Linked DNA regions of Homo sapiens. The protein of the gene in region 1 purifies or fractionates together with the protein of each later gene. This does not show direct contact. Each region holds a gene or a part of one and is shown in the gene's direction. Other genes may lie near its edges. The genes, in order: P3H1, UQCC1, UQCC2, KRABD3, MAT2B, DHRS7B and TMTC3.

Region 1 (3,500 bases):
GGTACTGTCTTCTAGGATTCATCTCTCACCCTATCTGGCACAGTTCCTGGTACACACTGAGGCCTCAGTTATCAAGTGGAGTTGAACTGAGTCTCTAGTATTAGTATGTCCCTAGCACAGAGAAACACCATGAGAACTGTAAGAGAGAAATGTTGACCTTTGCCCTATAGTTGCTTAAATTAACAGTGGTTAATTAAACAAGATTAGCGTATGAAAAGAATTTGTCCAGCATTCCTTTGTTTTCAGACCACTTTCACTTTGTTATTTCTCTTGATTCTTATAACTGAGAGGTGAGTCATGCAGATTGCAAGATCCTTATTTTAAATGAATAATGATGATGATACCATGGTAGCCAAACTTTTGAGGACTTACCATATGCCAAATATTGTACTAAGCTTTTAACTTGCCTTCCTTGTTCTTAACATTATACTGGCATCAAACATATAAGGTAGATGCTGTTTGACAGATGAGAACATTTTAATTAATTAAAATTAACCTCAGGGAGGTTAAGTAACTTGCCAAGGTCACACAGCTAATCAATGGAGGATCTAGGAGTCAAAGTCAGTTCTTCCTCGTTCCCGAGCTCATGTTTTAGGATTGTGTTTCTGATGTTTCCTCAAGAGTGTGTCATGGCCCAAAAGCCAGCAGCTATTTGGTCATGGAGCTGGGACTGGGAATCTCATCTTTCAGCTCTATGTTCTGTCCTCTGGACTATTCTACCTTTGAAAATGACCTAGCGGGAGATTTTGCTGGTGAAAAGGAAACAGCTGGAATTTCTATTTGTGACGAGGAGGCAATATCCAATGGAGAGTCTTTGGTCTAGCTGCTGCTAGATTTAGCTAGAGTTTTGTCATTGCTTTGCAGGTGGCCCCCTGCTGTATGAAGGCATCAGTCTCACCATGAACTCCAAACTCCTGAATGGTTCCCAGCGGGTGGTGATGGACGGCGTAATCTCTGACCACGAGTGTCAGGAGCTGCAGAGACTGACCAATGTAAGGGAAGCCCAGTGACTGCACCTTCCCCCAAGGGTCCAGCATCCCCCCACCAAGTGCCCCTTGGGTGGTAGCCTTCGCCTTCCTCTTCCTGGCCACAGTTGACCACCTCTTCTCAAGCCCTCAGCTGCCCTGGCTAACATCACCTTGTGTTTTGGGCCTTGTAGGTGGCAGCAACCTCAGGAGATGGCTACCGGGGTCAGACCTCCCCACATACTCCCAATGAAAAGTTCTATGGTGTCACTGTCTTCAAAGCCCTCAAGGTAAGATCAACACTGGGCATTCTAGAGTGTGGAGAAAGGGGTGGGGAAGGGGGAAGCTCAGGCTTTGAGGAAGAGTTGGGGCTGGTGGCAGGAAAGGTGAAGAGGGTCCACCTGCCAACATTCTTGTTGCCAGGAAGCGAGGATGAGTTATGTTGCGTGAGGTTCACTTTTGAATCCTGTTAGACCGAGTGTAATCAAAACAAAGTGAGCAGGATAAGACTGTTCGCCAAAGCTATGAGAATGCTTTCTTTAGAAAGGCTGATTCTAGAGGGCTGTGCTTCTGTGCAGGATGCACAGTGTGCTCATAAAGAGAGATAAGAAGGACAGGAGGAAGAGGAATATAGTAGGGGTATTGGGCGTGGGCAGCAGAGGCTGCAGCTTCAGTGGGGGTGTGGGGACGTGGGATGGGCCTGGTACTCATTGTCTCTGGCCCCTAAAGAGGGGCGTTGTGTTAGTCCGTTTTCACACTGCTGATAAAGACGTACCCGAGACTGGGCAATTTACAAAAGAAAGAGGTTTACTTGGACTTACAGTTCCATGTGGCTGGGGAAGCCTCACAATCATGGTGGAAGGCAAAGAGGAGCAAGTCACATCTTACATGGATGGCAGCAGGCAAAGAGAGAACTTCTGCAGGCAAACTCCCATTTTTTTATTTTTTATTTTTTATTATTTTATTTATTTATTTATTTATTTATTTATTTTTTTTTTATTGATCATTCTTGGGTGTTTCTCGCAGAGGGGGATTTGGCAGGGTCACAGGACAATAGTGGAGGGAAGGTCAGCAGATAAACAAGTGAACAAAGGTCTCTGGTTTTCCTAGGCAGAGGACCCTGCGGCCTTCCGCAGTGTTTGTGTCCCTGGGTACTTAAGATTAGGGAGTGGTGATGACTCTTAACGAGCATGCTGCCTTCAAGCATCTGTTTAACAAAGCACATCTTGCACCGCCCTTAATCCATTTAACCCTGAGTGGACACAGCACATGTTTCAGAGAGCACAGGGTTGGGGATAAGGTCACAGATCAACAGGATCCCAAGGCAGAAGAATTTTTCTTAGTACAGAACAAAATGAAAAGTCTCCCATGTCTACTTCTATCCACACAGACCCCGCAACCATCCGATTTCTCAATTTTTTCCCCACCCTTCCCGCCTTTCTATTCCACAAAACCGCCATCGTCATCATGGCCCATCCCCAATGAGCCGCTGGGCACACCTCCCAGACGGGGTCGTGGCTGGGCAGAGGGGCTCCTCACTTCCCAGTAGGGGCGGCCGGGCAGAAGCGCCCCTCACCTCCCGGATGGGGCGGCTGGCCGGGCGGGGGGCTGACCCCCCCACCACCCTCCCGGACGGGGCGGCTGGCCAGGCAGAGGGGCTCCTCACTTCCCAGTAGGGGCAGCCGGGCAGAGGCGCCCCTCACCTCCTGGATAGGGCGGCTGGCCGGGCAGGGGGCTGACCCCCCCACCTCCCTCCCGGACGGGGCGGCTGGCCGGGCAGAGGGGTCCTCACTTCCCAGTAGGGGCGGCCGGGCAGAGGCGCCCCTCACCTCCCGGACAGGGCGGCCGGCCGGGCGGGGGGCTGACCCCCCCACCTCCCTCCCGGACGGGGCGGCTGGCCGACCACCCCCCCCGGCCTCCCTCCCGGACGGGGTGGCTGGCCGGGCTGAGGGGCTCCTCACTTCCCAGTAGGGGCGGCCGGGCAGAGGCGCCCCTCACCTCCCGGACGCAAACTCCCATTTTTTTAAAGCCACCAGATCTCGTGAGACTTATTCAGTATTATGAGAACAGCACGGGAAAGATCCACCCCCATTATTCAGTCATCTCCCACCAGGTCCCTTCCACAACACATGGGAATTATGGGAACTACAAGATAAGATTTGGGTAGGGACACAGAGCCAAACCATATCAGTCGTTGAGGGCAGCTGACCATCTGTCTCCTTGGCAGCTGGGGCAAGAAGGCAAAGTTCCTCTGCAGAGTGCCCACCTGTACTACAACGTGACGGAGAAGGTGCGGCGCATCATGGAGTCCTACTTCCGCCTGGATACGCCCCTCTACTTTTCCTACTCTCATCTGGTGTGCCGCACTGCCATCGAAGGTGGGCCTCATTACCCCTGCAGCACCCGCCCCCGCATGCTGTACCTCAGCTCTGTGCTGGATGCTGAAGACACAGAGAGAACAGGATGCGGTCCCTTTTCTTCAGTTGGGGAACCAATGTAAATACATGGGTGGCATCCCAGTGTGATGCATGCCAC
Region 2 (3,500 bases), on another chromosome or scaffold:
TTATAAGATTGTTGTGAGATAACATAAGTAAAACACCAAGCATGTAGGTAGGTACTAGACATACAGGAGATCTTCAGTAAGTTGCAATTGCTATTTTTGTTGCTATTTATGTTCCTGTTGCTTGGGAAAGTTTTCTCCTCACTGTATGAAATGAAACTTAAAAAAAAAAAAAAAAGTTGTCCTAAAATTACCTTTACCAAATTGCAACCTCTCCCTTTGTCTTAGTTTCCTCATCTGTGAAGTGAAAAGGTTGGACCAGAATATCTCTGAGATTTCTTCCAGCTCAAGTGTTGTTATTCTGAGTTACTCTTTAGTTCTTCAGTTGCCTTTTCTCCAAGCTAAACAGCCTAAATTCCTTTTGACCTTTCCACTAGGACCTTTTATTCATCCCTTTGATCATTCCTGTGGTTCTTTTTTTGGACGTTCTCCAAAGTTGTCCTCTTTGAAAAAAAAAAAAAATCCACCTAGTTTTTATTGAGTAATGACTTCATGCCCAGAATGGTGTTGAGTATTGGGACAGAAAATGACAGACATATAAGATGGGCTGTGCCCTGGAGCTTATAGTTGCTAAAAGGAGCAGACACACACGCCCATGGTATTCAAGAATCGCTTGAGTTTGTCCCAGCACCCCCTTTCTACTTCTCTGCCTCTGTCATTCTTGTTTTTTTATTTTTTATTTTTATTTTTTGAGACAGAGCCTTGCTCTGTCACCCAGGCTGGAGTGCAGTGGCATGATCTTGGCTCACTGTAACCTCCGCCTTCTGGGTTCAAACGATTCTCCTGCCTCAGCCTCCTGAGTAGCTGGGATTACAGGCACACACCACCATGCCTGGCTAATTTTTGTTTTTTTTTGGAGGGGGGTAGAGATGGTGGTTTGCCATGTTGCCCAGGCTGGTCTCTAACTCCTGGACTCAGGCAACCCTCCCGCCTCGGCCTCCCAAAGTGTTGGGATTACAGGCGTCAGCCACCACGCCCAGCCTATTGATATTTTCTAATCTAAGCAAAGGAAAAATTGAGGTCTTTAAGGGTCGAGTGAATTTTTTGCGGGAAGTGCAAGGACAAGAGTGGGTAGTACAAAAAAGTAAATGTGTGTGTTTATAAGTGTGTAGGTGTGGAGAAACTAGATGTCCTTGATACTAGATACATAGGTACTTTAGTAGTTCAATATAGTGTGAAATGTTAGCTAATGGTAGGATAGAAATACAGTAGATGGTAGGACAGCCACAGAAGGAATCTACTGGTTACTCCTAGAGCTGTGAGGAAAAAGAAGGATCTAATAGAACCTAATAGAAGAGGACCCAGCCCAAAGCACAGCTTGTGGAAACTGCTGTTGGCTGTGTTCTTTGAACCAGTTTAAGTGCTTTGTGTTTTAGGTGGACCATTGCATTGATGTATGTGATGTAATGGGGAGGTGTTCTGTGTTTAGTCTGTGTTTTACAAAGCCTGCTTGATACTTATGAATTAAAGCCTAAGTGTCCTTGGGACTGACCAGAAGAATCCTGACTAATTTTTTAATATCCTCGTTTGGAAAGAAAAGTAAATAGTAACATTCCACAATTAGAAATTCTATTTTTTCTTCGTTAGGGTTAAAGAAAAAAAATCATTTTCATTCCATGTGTTCCATTTCTTCTTGGAATAAACCAGAATTGAAGAGTCAGCCCTCTTCCTGCTCCCTCTCACCCTTTTTTATTGTAAAGGTAATATAGCATTAGTGAGAGTTTGGAAACTAGATTTTTTTTTTTTTGCCAGAATTATTTTGGCTATAGATTCTTAAATTTATCCATAATTCTAACTTAACAAAATAACTCTTTGGTTTCTTGTGTGTTCTTTCTAAACTTGCCCATATGCAGTCTACGCAGTCATGTTTTACCTATAATTTTATACATATTATAAGCATTTAACATTTTTCATGTTGTTAACAATAATAATAATCTCTGAGTAAACCGTGCAGTCTGAGTGATGATGATGTGTCAGTGTAGGTTTGTTCTTTGTATCAAATGCACCACTCTGGTATGGGATGTTGATGGCGGGGGAGGCTGTGCATGTGGGGGAAGGGGTATGTGGGAACTCTGCCCTTTCCAGGAAGTTTTGCTATGAGCCTAAAACTGCTGTTAAAAAAAAAAAAAAAAGTCTATTTAAAAAAAAAAAAATCCCAGCCAGGCACCCAGGCTCATGCCTGTAGTCCCATTTTGGGAGTTCAAGGCATTTTGGGAGTTCAAGGCAGGAAGATCACTCACTTGAGCCCAGGAGTTTGAGGCCAGCCTGGGCAACATATGGAGACACTGTCTCTACAAAAATACAAAAATCAGCAGGGTGTGATGACAGATGCCTGTAGTCCCAGCAACTCAGGAGGCTGAGGCAGGAGAATTGCTTGAGCCGGGGAGGTGGAGGTTGCAGTCAGCTGAGATTGCACCACTGCACTCCAGCCTGGGCCATAGAGCCAGACCTTGTCTCAAAAAACAAAAACAAAACAACAACAACAAAAACAAAACAAAAAACCCTCAATGGATACCTGATTTTCCACTGAGTGACTGAACTTTCATTAACCATCTCCTTAATGGACTTTCCTCCCAGTTTTCATTCTGTATAGTATCTGGCACATAATAACGGCTATTTTATTGCCAAATTGTTTTTAAATGCAATGTGAACATGAAAAAGGTGGCGATTGTGATCCAAACAATAATGCTGGTGATGATAGTGATGATGGAAACTTCTGCTATTTATTGAGTGCCTATTTTGTGAAAGGCACTTTATATATCTTACCTTCTTTCATCCTTACTGCAACTGAGGTTCAGTAAGTTTTCCATGGCCACTGAGCTTGTCGTAGGCGACAGAAGCAGGTTTTAAACCTAAAAGTGGCTGGTGTCTTTATTTTTTTCCCCATATACGGCACTGCTGCCCATATTTAAATAGATAGATACTACAGTTCTGTTTCCTAGAATTGACTTAGATGTAGTTCCAGGTTTCCAGGGCTGAATTCTTTTTTTTTTTTTTTTTTTTTTTTTTTGAGACCGATTCTTGCTGTGTTGCCCAGGCTGGAGTGCAGTGGCATGATATTGGTTCACTGCAACCTTTGCCTCCTCAGTTCAAGCTATTCTCCTGCCTCAGCCTCCTGAGTAACTGGGATTACAGGCATGTGCCACCACACCTGGCTAATTTTTTGTATTTTTAGTAGAGATGGGGTTTCACCATATTGGCCAGGCTCTCAAACTCCTGACCTCAAGTGATCCATCCACCTCGGCCTCCCAAAGTGCTGGGATTACAGGTGTGAGCCACGCCACCTGGCCTTTGAATTCACTCTCTCTCTCTCTTTTTTTTTTTTTTTACAGACAGGGTCTTGCTCTTGCTGAGTCGCCCAGGTTGAAGTGCAGTGGTGTGATGATAGCTCCCTGCAGCCTCGATCTTCTGGGCTCAAGTGATCCTCCCACCTCAGCCTCCCAAGCAGCTTAAGACTATAGGCATGCACCACCACACCCAGCCAATTAAAAAAAAATTTGTAG
Region 3 (2,719 bases), on another chromosome or scaffold:
GGTCAGAAAAGATACTCTTTTTTTCTCCAGTAGTTTTGTTAACGTGAAAATTTAGGCTGGTAAAGCAAAACAATATTATAAGAATATCTAAAATTTAACATGCACGTAAAATTAGATTTCATGGAACATTAGCCCTAGAGACTTTAGACAAATGGTTCCGTACTGGGGGGATGGTTTTGCCCCCCAGGGGACATGTGGCAATGTCTGGAGACATTTTTAGTTGTCACAACTGGTGGTGCGGGCAGCGGTGCTACTGGCATTAGTGGGTAGAGGCCAGGATGCTTTGAAACAGCCTTCAGTGATGCACAGGCCAGCCCACGACGAAAAATTATCTGGCCCAAAGTGTTGGTAGTGCCAAGGCCAAGAAACCCTGCTTTGGTTCCTGGGTGTAGGGACGTGTATGTTCTTAAACAAGAGCCCCTCCCGCCTGCATTGTGGTGGATGATGGCTGCCTTTTCATTGAGTGCGGGCTGTGTGCCAAGCGAGTTACCTCCATGCTTTTCTTTAATCCTTACAACTTTTGAGGTACGTGTGGTTTTTTTTTTCTTACTTTTTCACCTCTCCCCAAGTTGTCTGCAGATGTGTGTTTTTATCTTCATTTTACAGATGAGGAACCCGAAGCGTAGAGGGTTAAGTAATTTGCTTGAGGGGACCCAGAGTGGGAGATGATGGGCTCGGATTCAGGCCCAAGGCCATCCCCCTCCCAGTGCCTGCTCAACTCCACAGCATGTGCTGAGTCCACACACCAGGATTCAAATCCCTGCTCCACTTCCCAGCTGTGCAACCTGAGCAAGTTACTTCACTGCCTCCTGCCTCAGTTTCCACACCTGAAAACTGGGGACAGGAAGGGCTGTGTGGAGCAGGCCAAATTTTGCGATGAAGCATCTGGGTCTGTGGGTTGCACAGCGGACAGCGCAGGGCCATTTCTTTGCCCTCATACGGAGCAGGGCAACGAGCAGCACATCCCGCTTTGATGCCGAGGGTGAGGAGAGGGCAGGAGACCACTGACAGCGTGCTGGGCACAGAGTCTGGCACACAGTGCTCAGTCCCCGCAAGCGGTCACTTCTGTTACCTGTTTGATCTGCTCTTCAGGAGCTGGGTCTCCACCTTTTTCAGGAACACACTGTGTGAAAAGCAAGCCATGCTTGTGTCGGGAAAGCCCAGTGGGTCCAATCTATGTCATCAAGTTTTAGACTTCAGTCCCTCTCTCTTTTTGTCTTCCCCTTTTGCAGACACCTTGGAAGAGCTTAAGGAAATAGATAAAGGCATGTGGAAGAAACTGCAGGAGAAGTTTGCCCCCAAGGGTCCTGAGGAGGATCATAAGGCCTGAGCTCAGGCCTTACCTCGTGCACATACCTAGGTGTGGAGTCTTGTACATTGCCATCGTCAATAAAACTGCCCCAGTTTCCCCTTGACCTTACGGTTTGGGAATCTCCTCTAGCTTTCCCAGAAAGGAAGCCCTTGCTGCTCTAAAGAAAGTTTCAGCCTGAGAAGGGATGGTGATTGAGCTATCTGCTGTGACTGCTGCTCAGGGTAGGGAAATCTCCTGGGGAGAGGAAATGCAGGTTTCCCTCTGGGCCTGATGAGGGTAATGGGGCCTCGGCACAAGGTGCTTCCTGCATTGCCACGGGAGCCCCCGCCCCTCTGGCACGGGTCTGGTGTCTCCTGGCAAGATACTCAGGCTCCCTTTTGTTGTAGGAGCTCCTGGGAGGAAGCCAAAAATAGCAGTAAATACTGAAAAGGGCATCCTGTTGCAAACAGAAAGCAGTAGGGAGGTGTGAGGCCGAGAGAGGCAAAAAGCCTGCTTGGCCCTCATCCCCACTGACTCAGAGAAGGATGGACCTTAGGCCTCTATCCCTGACCTTGCAAAAACCCACATTGCCCAGTTGGCTTAAGGGACAGGGAAGCTATAGACAGGCCTTGGCCAAGCGGGGCCTCAGCTGCAGTTGGCTTCAGCACTGTGGGCAGGTTCTGTAGGTGGCCACAAGTCAGAGGCCCTGCTGGCTGAGGACACACACAGGGTCACCTCATTATTCCATGGAACCTTGGCTCTTACTGATATTGAGCATCCTTCTCTCTGGAACCGTGAGGGACAGGGCTGGGCCCACAGCGGCCCTGGTGGGTACAAAGTGGAAGTGGGTTCTTAACCTCGTCTGTGTCTAGACTCCTCAGGATGTTCTGAAATGCATAAAATAAAATCGACAGGACTGCCGTAGAAACCAGTTATGCCGAAATGCAGTTCTGGGTAGGCAAATCTCAGGGGAGGACCCTTGAGACAGGATGTCACTCAGCGTATCTCCTGAGAGCCTGAGAGGCCAGGCCAGCAGGGAGGGGCTCTTGTTCCTGTCTTCTGCCAGTGTGTCCTGTTAATCCCCACAGCCCCCGGGGGAGTGCAGGAAACACATCCCTTTTTAACGGACTAGATTTCTATTAATTTATTTAAGGCAATTAACATATTAGTTCTCAGGCCAAAGGATTTGTAAAACATTACACCAAAAGGAGAAAAACAAGCGGTCATGAAACAGCCACGCAAGCGCAGCTCAGCCCTTGTTGCCTGGGCGTACAACTCTTCCCCAGGAAGCCTGGGAAGAGGCAGGTCCTGGGAGCAAGATCGTCCATCATGGAGTCACCAGGCCACCTGGAGCCATGCCGGGGGTGGCATGGACACGACAGTGAGGTCTGCACTGGCTACAGCAGATCTGAGGCACGGAGGGAGCTG
Region 4 (3,500 bases), on another chromosome or scaffold:
ACCATGCCTGGCTAATTTTTGTATTTTATTAGAGATGGGGTTTCACCATGTTGGCCAGGCTGGTCTTGAACTCCTGACCTCAGGTGATCCACCCACCTGGGCCTCCCAAAGTGCTGGGATTACAGGCGTGAACCATCACACCCAGCCTGGGACAGTTTTTAGAATCACTGACTTGGGTGGGTGCAGGGGCTCACGCCTGTAATCCTAGCACTTTGGGAGACCAATGTGGGAGAACCACTTGAGCCCAGGAGTTCAAGACTGGCCTGGGCAACATAGTAAGGTCCTGTCTTTTTTAATTAATTAATTAAAATAACTGCCCTGAGCAGATGAAACAAGCGGTGAATTGTCTTTGCTTTATTAGGGGCGTGTTCATTTTCTTTAATAATTTGTTCTCACAAATAAACAGTTTAACATTCATTTCTCAACAGGAAGGACCCTTCCCATAATTTACCTTCTGTTTGCTTAATTTGCACAGTTAATTTTTGCCATAATTTTAAATTCAAGCCTATTGATGCTGGTCATTTTCTAGTGTCTGATGGCCACTTTAAAGTCCACTGAAGGACTTTTTTTTTTTTTTTTTTTTTTTGAGATGGAGTCTCGCCATATTGCCCAGACTGGAGTGCAATGGCGTGATCTCGGCTCACTGCAACCTCTGCCTTCCGAGGTCAAGCAATTCTCCTGCCTCAGCCTCCTGAGTAGCTGAGATTACAGGCGCCCACCACCACACCTAATTTTTGCATTTTTAGTAGAGACAAGGTTTCACCATATTGGCCAGCCTGGTCTCGAACTCCTGATCTCAGGTGATCTGTCTGCCTTGGCCCCCCGAAGTGCTGGGATTACAGGCGTGAGCCACCACACCCAGCCGAAGGATTATTTTGTAAAGAAACATAGACAAAAATGCTCGTGTTATTTTAAAAAGCCACAGGGTAGGAGGAGATGAGTACAGAGAATAGGAGATAGGAGTACAGGGTGTAAAGGAGCCTGGTGACCCAAAGCTTCCAAGGGCAACCCCAGGTTTCTTCTGAGCACTTCTCTAAACCCAGCACACAAACTAGGTGGACAGCAAGAATGTCTTCTCTCACAGCCCTGCAGACCCGAAGCCCTACGTCACAGTGTGGGCAGGCCACACTCCCTCTGAAGGCTCTGGGCCAGGATCCTTCTTGCCTCTTGTGGCTTCTGGTGGCCCTGGGCATTCCTTGGCTTGTGGCTGCATGACTGTAGTCTCTGCCTGTCTTCACACAGCTTTCTTCTTTTGTGTCTGTCTCTGTGTCTCTTCTGATAAGGAATGAGTCATACTGGACTAAGGGTCCCCCCTACTTAGGAGTATGACCTCATCTTAAGTAATTCCATCTGCAGGGACTCTGTTTCTAAATAAGGTCCTACTTACAGGCGTGAGGGTTAGGACTTCAGCGTGTCTCTGCAGAGACACAGCTCACCCCCAGCACTGTCTCTTGAGGGGATTCCTGCATGTCAGACCCTGGCTATTATCCTGGAGTGTGCGCCTGGAGGCCTAGGTGGGGTTACCAAGTGCAGGGACAGCTAGGCTGTCCCCTCTGGGATGGAACAACCAACCCCCCCGGAGACTGTGCCTGCAGGTGTCCATCACCTTCAAGGACTTGGCCGTGCGGTTCTCGGAGGAGGAGTGGCGGCTCCTGGAGGAGGGGCAGAGGGAGTTCTACCGAGACGTGATGCGGGAGAACTACGAGACGCTGGTCTCTGTGGGTAAGGACGGGAGGGAGCAGCACGTGTGGCAGGAGCCTGGTGGGCGGTGGAAGGGAGGCCGGAGTCCCTGGACCCGGCAGCCTTAGTCTTTCCACCTGAGAAATGAACACGGGGATCGTTCACGCTGCTGCTATTCTATGTCCCGGGACCGGGTTCTAGGTACAATTCGGTGGGGGTATGCGGCGGCCTCTGAGGTTCCGACCACTCTGCGGTTCTTTGAGTTTAAGTGGTCACATGAATGTGCACAGACCTGCAGGGGCCTGGGCTGCTATGCAACTGTGTGCGAAGCGGAGACCACTCCATTCCCAGGGCCACAGTTCCCTCTTCTTTCCCAGGGACAGCTGAGCTGCTCCCCCTCTCTGCTTTCCTGTCACCCTCAGAGCCTGGAAGAGCTGTTGGGGGAGGGAGCCACGCTGATGAGGGGCAGGAGCCTGCTGGTTGTGGAGATCCCCAGGGTAAGTTATCTGTCAGACTTTGGGTGTCTCCTCCCACTCATCGGTCCTCAGCCCCAGGCAATGCGTGACCTCAGCCTACTCAGTCCAGCCTCTCACCTCCCTGCCTCCCCTACTGCAACCTCCCAAGCTTTCACCCCTCATCCCTCTGGGCTGGAAGCCTGTTATGCAGAGAAGCACTCAGAGAAAGCCTGGGGTCACCCTGGAGAGTACCTCCTGCCTCAGGCCCCCCACCCACCACCACCCTGAAGCCTTATCACAGCCACCCCTGCAGAACCTGCTCCAGCTCCCAAAAGTCCTGCCACGAGGCTTACATCCCAAGACCTCAGATGGTGGATGTGCTCCACCGGCCCAGACTGGGCAAGGCCAGGCATTTAGGGGGTGCCAGGAAAGGCAGAGGGCCCAGATGGTGGAAGAAGTGTAGCGGCAGCCCGCCTGGGCATTCCCCTGGGAGGCATGGAGATTAATGAGTAACGTAGAACAGAGGAGCCCTGTTACCCAGGCCCCGCCCCCATGCCCTGGCTGTCCCTTGGCCAGAGCGCCTGGCCTGAGCCCAGGTCCTCTATATCTCATGGGACATGGTGTCTCCTCTGGCTGCTCCTCATGTGGCTGGGAGGATTACGTGAGATGCTGGGTGTGAAAACACGCACGTAGGTGTGAGTGCTGAGCAGCCGCAGGGGTGCGGGGGGGTCACTGTGGCCTCTCTGCAGGGGGACAGCCCCGGCACAGCCTGCACCTCACAGCCCTGGTGCAGCTGGTGAAGGAGATCCCAGAGTTCTTGTTTGGAGAAGTCAAGGGCGCTATGGACAGCCCCGAGAGCGAGAGCCGGGGAGCCAGCCTGGATGGAGAGAGAGCGAGCCCCGAGGGTAAGTCAGACAGTGGGGCAGTGCACGCAGCCTCCTCTGCACTCCGCATGATGAAGCACAAGTCCACGGCACTGCACTGCATGTGGGCTTGCAGGCACAGGCCGGGAGGCAGAGTCACCTGCTGTTCCTCGTGGCTAGGCCGTGTGCCGCCCTCTGAGCACATGCCCATAGCTGGCGAGAGGGCAGCTCTGACTTTCGCATGGTGGTTTCTGTGTGGCTTTGTCACCCTCCACCCACCATGGCCCCATTCAGAGCCCAGTGATGACAACACATAGGTGGCTGACATCCTGGTCATTGTTAGTACATGGCAAGGAAAGGACCCAGAATGTGACAGTGTGACAATGTTAGGGGCATCTTACCAGTTGTTGATTCTCCCTCTTTCCCGACAGCAGCTGCGGCAAGAGAGCCCTGCCCTCTCCGAGGCCTGCTCAGCTGCCTTCCAGACGGCCCTACCAGCCAG
Region 5 (4,236 bases), on another chromosome or scaffold:
TTAATCTAGCATCCAGTCAAAGACTATTCATTGCATTCAGTTGTCATGATAAGTTTTATTTTTAATGATCATATTAATGTAGGATTTATATATATAAAAAAAACTAGTCCAAATGACAGAAGATACTTAACAAATGTGGTTTTGCCTTTTTCTTTTTTTTTTTTTTTTTTTTTTTTTTGAGACAGGGTCTCAGTCGCCTGGGCTGGAGTGCAGTAGGGTGAACACAGCTCACTATAGCCTTGACCTCCTTGGCTTAAGCAATCCTCCCACCACGAACGGCTAATTTTTTTACATTTTGTAGAGACGAGGTCTCACTGTGTTGTCCACGCTGGTCTCGAACTCCTGGGCTCAAGTAGTCCTCCTGCCTTGGACTCCCAAGTGCTGGAATTACAGTCATGAGCCCCACCGCACTCAGCCTTTGACTGTTTTTAATTTTATTTTTGAGGCAGGGTCTCACTCTGTTGCCCAGGCTGGAGTACAGTGGTGCAGTCATAGCTCATTGCAACCTTGAACTTCAGGCTCAAGAGATCCTTTTGCCTTACTCAGCCTCCCAAGTAGCTGGGACTACAGGCATGTGCCACCATGCCCAGCTAATTTTCATTTTAATTTTTTGTAGAGACGGAGTTTTGCTATGATGCCCGGGCTGATCTTGAACTCCTGGCTTCAAGTGATCCTTCTGCCTTGGCCTCCCAAAGTGCTAGCATTATAGGCATGAGTCACTGTGCCTGGCCTTGAATATTTTTACATTGCGTTGTCACAAGTGAGCTGTGTCATTTTGGTATATTTTAATTAAAAGGCAAGGTTTCTACTTTGATATTATTTAAATCCACACCCTTGTATCTTACATCAAAATTTAAGAATCAGTCAGCTTTAAATTATTTGCTTTTATTCTTCTCTAGGAGCTGCTGTTTTGAGGATTCCTATTCTGTATGGGGAAGTTGAAAAGCTCGAAGAAAGTGCTGTGACTGTTATGTTTGATAAAGTGCAGTTCAGCAACAAGTCAGCAAACATGGATCACTGGCAGCAGAGGTTCCCCACACATGTCAAAGATGTGGCCACTGTGTGCCGGCAGCTAGCAGAGAAGAGAATGCTGGTAAGAAGGATTCCTGAGTCCTGTCTTAGCGAAGGTCCGCTTTGTCTTTTCCATGCTTGAACTTTCACAGCTGTACTTGGAGTGTTACTGAGTGAAAGCCAAAAGTGCTTTTTTAAAACTAGGAGACCAAACAAAAGTAGTTTACATATACACTGTATTCATGAAGAATAAAAATATTATGCTCTTCTGTTTGAATTTATTTCTTATGTACTATAGATCCCATCATTTCTTTTATTGCAAAGTGTTAGGAAACTTCAAAATAATCATCTAAGGTCTTTTAAGAAGATACTCTTTGGGGGCTGGGCGTGATGGCTCACACCTGTAATCCCAGCACATTTGAAAAAGTTGGTATTAAATATAATATCCATACAAAGAAAGATGAGACTGATTTAGTTTAGAATATTAATAGGATGACCACAGTTTTTTAATATATGAGAATTATATTTTGTAATATATAACATGACAATATTTAAGAAAGTTTAGCTCAACTTGAAAAATGGTTCTATTAAGTTTTTGTTGTAGCTTGGGATAATTAAAAATACTCATTAAATTGTACTGTTTTCATAAAAATTTGTAATGCTTTTTTATATTCCCACTAATTAAGTAAAATTGGAGCCTTTTTTTGATTTTAAAAATTCTTAAGGTTTAAATTCTAGAAATTGCTCTTTTAAGTGTTTTGCTAAGAGTATTAGTAGGAATTTGATTTTAGATATCTTGTGGAGACCTTTCCAGAAAAAGAGGGTTGCCTTTTAGTTCCTGGACCTTATTTTAAGTAAGCTTTTTGGTCAAACCTATTCTACTCAGCTCAAAAAGTTGAAACTATTGAATTTATTGTGTCATCGTTCTTAGGATCCATCAATTAAGGGAACCTTTCACTGGTCTGGCAATGAACAGATGACTAAGTATGAAATGGCATGTGCAATTGCAGATGCCTTCAACCTCCCCAGCAGTCACTTAAGACCTGTAAGTACATGGCTGTAAAAACCTTTAGATCCATTGCTATGGTATATATTATTGCTGTGTTGGGTAACTTCATTTCTCAGTACTAATCAAAGTGAACTTTGCTTGTATGCTGGCTGTTCATAGTGCTACTTTTCTCTAAATTATCATCTGTAGAGAAGATCATGAGTATTGAAGTTTGTAGAAAATGTATTATTGTCTTGATCATGACAGGCATTTGGTTTATTTTTCCAGGGATGATCAAATCAGATTTCTTACACTAAGAGCAAAAATAAGTAGCAAATATAAAACCTCAAAATGGCCAGGCACAATGGCTCATGCCTGTAATCCCAACACTTTGGGAGGCTGACGCAGGAGGATCCCTTGAGCCCAGGAATTTGAGACTAGCCTGGGCAATGGAGGGAGATCTCATCTCTGTTTAAAAATATATACATATTTAAAAAAAGGTCAGGGGGAACAAAGCCCTCAAAATATAGCCTTTCACTTACTTTTGATTTTTTTGTGTTTATCTTTCTTTAAAGATTACTGACAGCCCTGTCCTAGGAGCACAACGTCCGAGAAATGCTCAGCTTGACTGCTCCAAATTGGAGACCTTGGGCATTGGCCAACGAACACCATTTCGAATTGGAATCAAAGAATCACTTTGGCCTTTCCTCATTGACAAGAGATGGAGACAAACGGTCTTTCATTAGTTTATTTGTGTTGGGTTCTTTTTTTTTTTTAAATGAAAAGTATAGTATGTGGCACTTTTTAAAGAACAAAGGAAATAGTTTTGTATGAGTACTTTAATTGTGACTCTTAGGATCTTTCAGGTAAATGATGCTCTTGCACTAGTGAAATTGTCTAAAGAAACTAAAGGGCAGTCATGCCCTGTTTGCAGTAATTTTTCTTTTTATCATTTTGTTTGTCCTGGCTAAACTTGGAGTTTGAGTATAGTAAATTATGATCCTTAAATATTTGAGAGTCAGGATGAAGCAGATCTGCTGTAGACTTTTCAGATGAAATTGTTCATTCTCGTAACCTCCATATTTTCAGGATTTTTGAAGCTGTTGACCTTTTCATGTTGATTATTTTAAATTGTGTGAAATAGTATAAAAATCATTGGTGTTCATTATTTGCTTTGCCTGAGCTCAGATCAAAATGTTTGAAGAAAGGAACTTTATTTTTGCAAGTTACGTACAGTTTTTATGCTTGAGATATTTCAACATGTTATGTATATTGGAACTTCTACAGCTTGATGCCTCCTGCTTTTATAGCAGTTTATGGGGAGCACTTGAAAGAGCGTGTGTACATGTATTTTTTTTCTAGGCAAACATTGAATGCAAACGTGTATTTTTTTAATATAAATATATAACTGTCCTTTTCATCCCATGTTGCCGCTAAGTGATATTTCATATGTGTGGTTATACTCATAATAATGGGCCTTGTAAGTCTTTTCACCATTCATGAATAATAATAAATATGTACTGCTGGCATGTAATGCTTAGTTTTCTTGTATTTACTTCTTTTTTTAAATGTAAGGACCAAACTTCTAAACTAATTGTTCTTTTGTTGCTTTAATTTTTAAAAATTACATTCTTCTGATGTAACATGTGATACATACAAAAGAATATAGTTTAATATGTATTGAAATAAAACACAATAAAATTAACACTTGATCCAGAATGTTAACTTACCACCCCATCCTAGAATGTTACAGTTACTGTATCTATTTGTGGGAACGGATTTGTTTTTAACTAAAAATTAATAGCTATATAATCTTGTTACATTATACAGTTGACCCTTGAACGGTGTGGGTTTGGGGTATCAACCTTGCACAGTCTAAAATCCACTATAACTCTGGACTCCCCAAATACTTAATTAGTAAAAACCTGCTGTTGACCAGAAGCCTTACTGATAAACATAGTCATTTAACATATTTCTATCTTCTGTGTATTACATACTGTATTCTTAAAGTAGCCTAGAGAAAAGAAAATATTATTAAGAAAATCTCAAGGAAGGGAAAATATATTTACTATTCATTAAGTGGAAGTAGATTATCATAAAGTTTTTTTTTTTTTTTTTTAGACAAGGTCTCGCTCTGTCGCATAGGCTGGGGTACAGTGGTGCATTCTCAGCTCACTGCAACCTCCGCCTCCTGGGTTCAAGCAATTCTCCTCCCTCAGCCACTCGAGTAGCTGGGA
Region 6 (2,979 bases), on another chromosome or scaffold:
TTCTTTGGTCATTTTCATTTGGAAGAGAACTTTTAAAGTGAAAAAAACTTGACAGAGGTGTTGGTTCTAGATATGGACTATTGAATAATCTTCTTTTACCCCACCATGGCCTACCCTTAGTGTGAACGTCACCATTGCAGCATTCAGAACAGGACCTCTGTGGGCAGGACTCAAGGGCTAAAAGGAAGTTGCCAAGCTGAAATGCCAACAGACTTCCAACTAACCCATTCGCAGATCCCGAGTCCAAGGAGTATTATCGGCATCGGGATTGAGTGAATTGACCTCATGGCAAGTGTAGGGTGTTTGATGGTCTGTCTCTGTCCCATAGGCTTGAGAAATGACTGATTCAGGGCCAGTCTTCAGGATGAGGCCGAGTGCAGCAGTCTCAGCACCTTCATCTTGTCTCATTTGGAGACAGTGCAGAGCTGACCTGCAGTCACCACTCGCGGGCAGAGCAGCTGGCCCCAGCATGCAGGCTCAGGCCAAGCAGAGACCAGTGTGCCCATGATCACTGGAGCCCTTGGAGCTGGTGCTGCCTCCCCATGCTTGGAACAGGGCCTGCTCACCCCTCCAGTGCTGTCCTGCCATGTCCTCCTCCCTGAAGTGAGCTCTTGGGGTTTGTGCTGTGATGTCTGCCAGGGGCCTCATGGTCCTGCGCCCGGCCCAGCCAGGCCTGAACCAAGACTGCCCATGTCCTGGCAGCAGCTGCTCTCTCACACAGCAAGTCTTGTTTTCCCCACAGTAGACTCTATACAGAGGCATGGGGCTTCATACAGCTTTACACCTGTTTATACCTAGAAGATACCACTTAAAAAATTATCTCTGCGGCATTTAAAAATAAGCTGTAATCCAAAACTTCCTACTTTTCTGCATTAACAAAAACACAGAACAGACATTGGTGAGGGAGCTCAGGCAATCTGGACAACTTAAGAGTGGTTTCATATGGCTAGGCACTGTGGTCAACACCTGAAATCTCAGCACTTTGGGAGGTCAAGTCAGGAGGATCACTTCAGCCTAGGAGTTTGAGACCAGTTTGGGCAATAGTGCAAGACCTAACCTCCACAAAAAATACGAAAATTAGCCAACCATGGTGGCACCACCTGTAGTCTAGCTACTCAGGAGGCTGAGGCAGGAGGATTGCTTGAGCCCAGGAGGTCGAGGCTGCAGTAAGCCATGATTGTGCCACTGCACTCCAGCCTGGGCAACAGAGCGAAACCCTGTCTTTAAAAAAAAAAAAAAAGTGGTTTCACATGGTCTGTGCTAGTGGCCGCTCCTGTGTGCCTGCCAGCTGGTCCTACTTTGCGGGCAAAATTGTCAAATTACTAGGGTAGAAGGAACATCAGTTGCCGTTAATCTAACACTGCCTCCTAATCTCTCCCAGCTGTTCCTTCTAACACCTAAAACAAACTAAGGACTTCTTCCTGTTTCTCATCCAATTAATACTTGACATCGAGAACAGGGACATCTGTCTGCTCCTGACTCAGTGAGCTTGTGCATATGGGGGTCAATAGTCCCCACCCACCTCTGTCTGGCCATCCTGAAGCCAAGCTACCCAAGATAAATGAGGTGGCACAACATCCCTTAGTCTTTGGTTGTTCTAATAGGCACACGTTTCCCAGGTCAGGAAGCTGCTTTTCAGGTGCGGTGTGAGGGGGTCACTCTGAAGCCCCCACCCCGGGCTGGCCCTGTGCCTTTGCTGTGGAGCACCAGGCAGACAGACTCACTTTGGTTCCAAGCCCTAACTGGGATCCTCAGTCTACCTTGTTTCCACATCCCACCCACCTCTCGCTTCCCCCACTGACCCACATCCAGCTGCAAAATGGTTCCCTCTTTCCTTGGAGCATGGAATCATCAGGGATGGTGGCACACCACTGGCTTCCTGGCCCTGGGAAGAGCTTCATGGTGGGAAAGGCAGCAGGCTGACCTGACGACTCACATCAGCTCCACTCCTCAAGAGGGACCTCTGCTTCCAAGTTCATGTGTTTCTTTTGTTTTATTTATTTTAGTTATGGACACCACCACAGCCCAGGGCCGAAGCCCTGTGGAGGTGGCCCAGGATGTTCTTGCTGCTGTGGGGAAGAAGAAGAAAGATGTGATCCTGGCTGACTTACTGCCTTCCTTGGCTGTTTATCTTCGAACTCTGGCTCCTGGGCTCTTCTTCAGCCTCATGGCCTCCAGGGCCAGAAAAGAGCGGAAATCCAAGAACTCCTAGTACTCTGACCAGCCAGGGCCAGGGCAGAGAAGCAGCACTCTTAGGCTTGCTTACTCTACAAGGGACAGTTGCATTTGTTGAGACTTTAATGGAGATTTGTCTCACAAGTGGGAAAGACTGAAGAAACACATCTCGTGCAGATCTGCTGGCAGAGGACAATCAAAAACGACAACAAGCTTCTTCCCAGGGTGAGGGGAAACACTTAAGGAATAAATATGGAGCTGGGGTTTAACACTAAAAACTAGAAATAAACATCTCAAACAGTAAGAGTTGTAGTCTTCCAGGACTAGAACCTTGTGTCCTTTGAATTCTCGCCCTGCCAGCTCCTAGAAATAGTTTCAATCTTGGAATCAGATGTTATGTCACCTGACCCAGTTGTTTCTGTATTTGACTTAAACCTCATTGTTGTGGCAGAAAGACCACCTCCAGTACTGAGGGGAGAAAGTTGTAGTTTCAAGAAGTCAGCAGTCACGCCCATTTCCAGGTCCCTATGATATCTCATCCAACTTAAAACGTGGGCCAGTATGTAATGGCTTATTTGGTGTATCCCAAGGGATGCCTGCTTTAGCACCTCATAGGAATTCCTGTTTCTCTCTTAACTCTCACCACATCCCTGTAGGATGCCAGGCACCACTCCAAGCAGAAGGTGAACTTACTAAAGAGAGAGCAGCCAAAAGGGAGAGGAGGACCCTGCGTGGCCCCGTGCATCCTCTAGAAGTGAAACCATTAAATTGGCCAGCTGGGCAGACTCTACAGCAGCCCCTGGT
Region 7 (3,500 bases), on another chromosome or scaffold:
TGCATACCTGTAGTCCTAGGTGTTTGGGAGGCTGAGGCAGGAGGATTGCTTGAGCCCAAGAGTTCAAGAATGCAGTAGACTATGATCATGCCACTATACTCTATCCTGGATGACAGACAAGACCCTGTCAGAAAAAAAAAAAAAGGAAGAAGAAAAAAAGAAAGAAAGACTCTGGAGGTGACTGAGTGGTTTGCCGTATGTAGGAAATGAGAAGTAAAGCAGATTTGTCTCGAACTCTTTGCTCTTTCTACTAATATCCTAACATTTAAGGACAGTTTATGCTACTGGAAGAAGGAAATTACAAGAGAGTGATAGTTAACTAGGTTGGCATACATTATTAGAGAGCATATTAGGACCTGTGAATAAGTTAATCATTAGAGACATTTCTTATCCCAGAACCTATAGATTTTTCCTGAGAGATTTTTTTTGTTTTGTATAGTTTATGCATCAGTCTACAATACACTTTTGAGTGAATTTAACACTTAATTCCCTCAAGTGAAATTGCCTTGGGGCGGCCATGAATTAATAGGTATAATTTTTTTTTCAATGAACTACATACATATTCAGGAACTTTTCTTTATCTGTTTCACATTTTTTGCTGATTATTTTTGTCAAGCATCTCTGGGAAATGGAAAGTGAATTCTATGCACTCTTAGTTATTCTTACCTTTTTGATTTAAAAAAACTGAAGTGTCAGACCTATAAATTGGTATGATGGTGACCAGTTTGATGGTAGTGATTTTCCTCAGATTCAGTGTTGCCTTATTACAAATCATTAATGTGTGAACATTTGTGGAGAGTATTCTTTTCAATGTATACACCTCTATATTTCACAAATTAAGTCAAATAGAAAAAAAGGACATTCTTTCACCTTAGCCCATTAGAAGAGTCTCAAACTTGTGAAGCTAAAGGTTTAACTTGTTTATTCAATTAAGTACTGTAAAACAAATCGGGGTAACAAAATATGGAAGCAGATGTCCATAGAAACAGATTTCCTAATAACGACCAAACTTATTTCCTTCACAAGCTATTTATGTGCTAGTTTTTTATGGGTGTATAATGTGGAAACCACATGTCATCCCATTTTCAAAATGGTAAGAAATCTAAACATTTTTATGATGTTTCATTTCAATGTTCAGTGTTATATTAATAATTTTAGAAATTCTTGTAGAATGAAAGACTGTTGATTTAAAGGGGGGCAGTTTTATTTTTATGCATACACTAAGCTTCTAGTTAAATACATTTAACCTTTCAGGATGTTATGTGAAGTAATGCTAAGGTACAGTAGTCTGCTATCTTGTCTGAACGACACCTGATTTCATTCCCTCAGTTTCCAATATCATGTGGTTTCTTAAAGTAGTAAAGTTGTAAAAACTGACATGTTTAGCTTTTTTTTAATCAGCATTTGTGGTTTTGTTTTGTTGAAAAACCTATTAGCATATTTCATTATCATCTTATTTTTACCACACGCACATAAGTTAGATGTGTAAAATTTTTATTTATTTAATTTGTATTCCTCCTAACTGAAGTTTTATGCCTTTTGACCAACCTCTCCCCAACCTTCTCCCTCCAACCCTGGTGACCACCATGTACTGTACTTCTGTGAGTTCAACTTTTACAAATTCTACATACAAGTGAGATCATGCGTTGTTTGTCTTTCTGTGGCTGGCTTATTTCTCTTAACATGGTGTCCTCCGGGTTTATCCATGTCAGAAATGACAGGATTTCCTTCTGTTTTAAGGCTAAATAGTATTCTAAAGTGTATATGTACCACATTTTTTTCATCCAGTAATCTGTTGATGGATACTTAGGTTGTTCCCATATCTTGGCTATTGTAAATTGAATAATGCTGCAATGAACAGGGGAGGTCAGATCTCTCTTCAACATACTGACTTCATTTCCTTTGGATCTATACCCAGTAGTGAGGATGCTGGGTCACATGGTAGTTCTATTTTTAATTTTTTGAGAAGCCTTCCTACTGTTTGCTTAATGGCAATGCTAATTTACATCCCACCAACAGTGTGCAAGTGTTTCCTTTACGTTCTTGCCAACATTTGTTATCTTTTGACTTTTTGATAATAGCCATTCTTACAGGTGTGCGATGACATCTCATTGTGGTTTTAATTTTCACTTCCTTAATGATAGTGATGTTGAACATTTATATACTTGATGGCCATTGGCATGTTGTCTTCTGAGGAATATCTATTTAGCTACTTTGCCCATTTTTTAAATTGGGTTGTTTTCTTATGATTGTTTGAGTGTGTTATTTTAGATAGAATTTCAAAAAGTACTTCCACTATTTAACTGGATGAACCTTTATTGTTTAATTTTTGCTTAAAGATGTGAATATTTACATTTATTAAAGTTTTTATATTTTACTATGCAAGCATATTCTTTACAGAAAACCAGTGAGATATAGCTAATTATGCTTCTCAAATTTAAAATGCTGTAATGGTTTAGATTTTAATTTCAAGGAGTAATCACTCCCAAACACACCTAGAAATCTTGTTTTCAAAGTTCATAGATATCCTCTAATTTTAACTTTTAGAATTCAAGATTTCCATTTCACCTTGCTTACGTACATCCTGATGTTTGTTAATGTCTAAGTTGCCTTCTTTATGTTTAAATTAATATTCTTCACAGTATTATTAAAAATAGTTTAGCAGTACACTATCCAGGTTAAATGATAAAATATTTGGATTCAAGTATCAGATGCCCATATATTTCTTAATTTATTATAAATTATTTTAAATTTATTATAAATTATTAAATCTTCTTTTTTTTTTTGTAGGCGCTTTGTTTAATGGCATTACCATTTATTCCTGCATCGAACCTTTTTTTTCCAGTTGGATTTGTTGTTGCCGAGCGAGTATTATATGTTCCCAGCATGGGGTTCTGTATTTTGGTAGCCCATGGATGGCAGAAAATATCAACAAAAAGGTGAATTTAAATGTCAGTTCATGTAATGCTTACTATGGAATTAAGTGTGACACATTTTAAAATTTAAATATTTAGTTCAGTTTTCTAAGTCATGCTTTTGTATCTTTTGGTTTTTCATCTCCATAGTCTCCTCATTTGTCTTGTAAGTCAAGTTAGGAAAGCTCCATGGCACCTACTTATTCTGTGTTCTTCCCTATATTTATGTAATTTGATTTTACAGCCTGAGACAGAACAAACTTTGAGTCAGATCCAAATGAAAACAAGGATGTTACTGAGAATAAAGTCTCAAATGACCATTGCCACTTCCATATTCAGTGAACTAAGATAATAGTCATCCTACTTAAGTGAGTCATATTGAGTTAATATATATAAAATGCATATAGTAAGCAATCTGTAATTTCTTGCTATCATCACTATCTTCATTATAATCTTTGTATCCTAGTTGCCTCAAACTAACAGTTAAGGAACAGCATAGTCACACTGTATATATGCTTAGGAACTATAATTGTTATAGGTATTATCTCATTGTATACTTATGCTGTGGCACTAAAATTATCAAAT

Evidence for each region.
Region 2: the proteins of P3H1 (region 1) and UQCC1 purify together in Homo sapiens (co-immunoprecipitation; 3 studies listed by BioGRID and IntAct, with this or other methods). This does not show direct contact.
Region 3: the proteins of P3H1 (region 1) and UQCC2 purify together in Homo sapiens (co-immunoprecipitation; 3 studies listed by BioGRID and IntAct, with this or other methods). This does not show direct contact.
Region 4: the proteins of P3H1 (region 1) and KRABD3 purify together in Homo sapiens (affinity purification with mass spectrometry; 2 studies listed by BioGRID and IntAct, with this or other methods). This does not show direct contact.
Region 5: the proteins of P3H1 (region 1) and MAT2B fractionate together in Homo sapiens (co-fractionation; one large-scale study listed by BioGRID). This does not show direct contact.
Region 6: the proteins of P3H1 (region 1) and DHRS7B purify together in Homo sapiens (co-immunoprecipitation; one large-scale study listed by IntAct). This does not show direct contact.
Region 7: the proteins of P3H1 (region 1) and TMTC3 purify together in Homo sapiens (co-immunoprecipitation; one large-scale study listed by IntAct). This does not show direct contact.

Annotation. Positions count from the first base shown.
Region 1 is NC_000001.11:42,750,029-42,753,528, reverse strand, and holds part of P3H1 (prolyl 3-hydroxylase 1 isoform 1 precursor), read left to right. Parts: intron 1-864; coding exon 865-992; intron 993-1,159; coding exon 1,160-1,255; intron 1,256-3,192; coding exon 3,193-3,343; intron 3,344-3,500. UniProt on the Homo sapiens protein: Basement membrane-associated chondroitin sulfate proteoglycan (CSPG). Has prolyl 3-hydroxylase activity catalyzing the post-translational formation of 3-hydroxyproline in -Xaa-Pro-Gly- sequences in collagens, especially types IV and V.
Region 2 is NC_000020.11:35,384,474-35,387,973, reverse strand, and holds part of UQCC1 (ubiquinol-cytochrome c reductase complex assembly factor 1), read left to right. Parts: intron 1-3,500. UniProt on the Homo sapiens protein: Required for the assembly of the ubiquinol-cytochrome c reductase complex (mitochondrial respiratory chain complex III or cytochrome b-c1 complex). Involved in cytochrome b translation and/or stability.
Region 3 is NC_000006.12:33,696,264-33,698,982, reverse strand, and holds the end of UQCC2 (ubiquinol-cytochrome c reductase complex assembly factor 2), read left to right. Parts: intron 1-748; exon of another isoform or gene 749-855; intron 856-1,232; coding exon 1,233-1,330; 3' UTR 1,331-2,219; downstream 2,220-2,719.
Region 4 is NC_000007.14:149,717,951-149,721,450, forward strand, and holds part of KRABD3 (protein KRBA1), read left to right. Parts: intron 1-1,518; exon of another isoform or gene 1,519-1,595; coding exon 1,596-1,722; intron 1,723-2,057; coding exon 2,058-2,177; intron 2,178-2,884; coding exon 2,885-3,040; intron 3,041-3,429; coding exon of another isoform or gene 3,430-3,432; coding exon 3,433-3,500.
Region 5 is NC_000005.10:163,515,619-163,519,854, forward strand, and holds the end of MAT2B (methionine adenosyltransferase 2 subunit beta), read left to right. Parts: intron 1-899; coding exon 900-1,093; intron 1,094-1,942; coding exon 1,943-2,056; intron 2,057-2,574; coding exon 2,575-2,745; 3' UTR 2,746-3,736; downstream 3,737-4,236.
Region 6 is NC_000017.11:21,188,942-21,191,920, forward strand, and holds the end of DHRS7B (dehydrogenase/reductase SDR family member 7B), read left to right. Parts: intron 1-2,006; coding exon 2,007-2,212; 3' UTR 2,213-2,479; downstream 2,480-2,979.
Region 7 is NC_000012.12:88,169,807-88,173,306, forward strand, and holds part of TMTC3 (protein O-mannosyl-transferase TMTC3), read left to right. Parts: intron 1-2,790; coding exon 2,791-2,939; intron 2,940-3,159; exon of another isoform or gene 3,160-3,283; intron 3,284-3,500. UniProt on the Homo sapiens protein: Transfers mannosyl residues to the hydroxyl group of serine or threonine residues.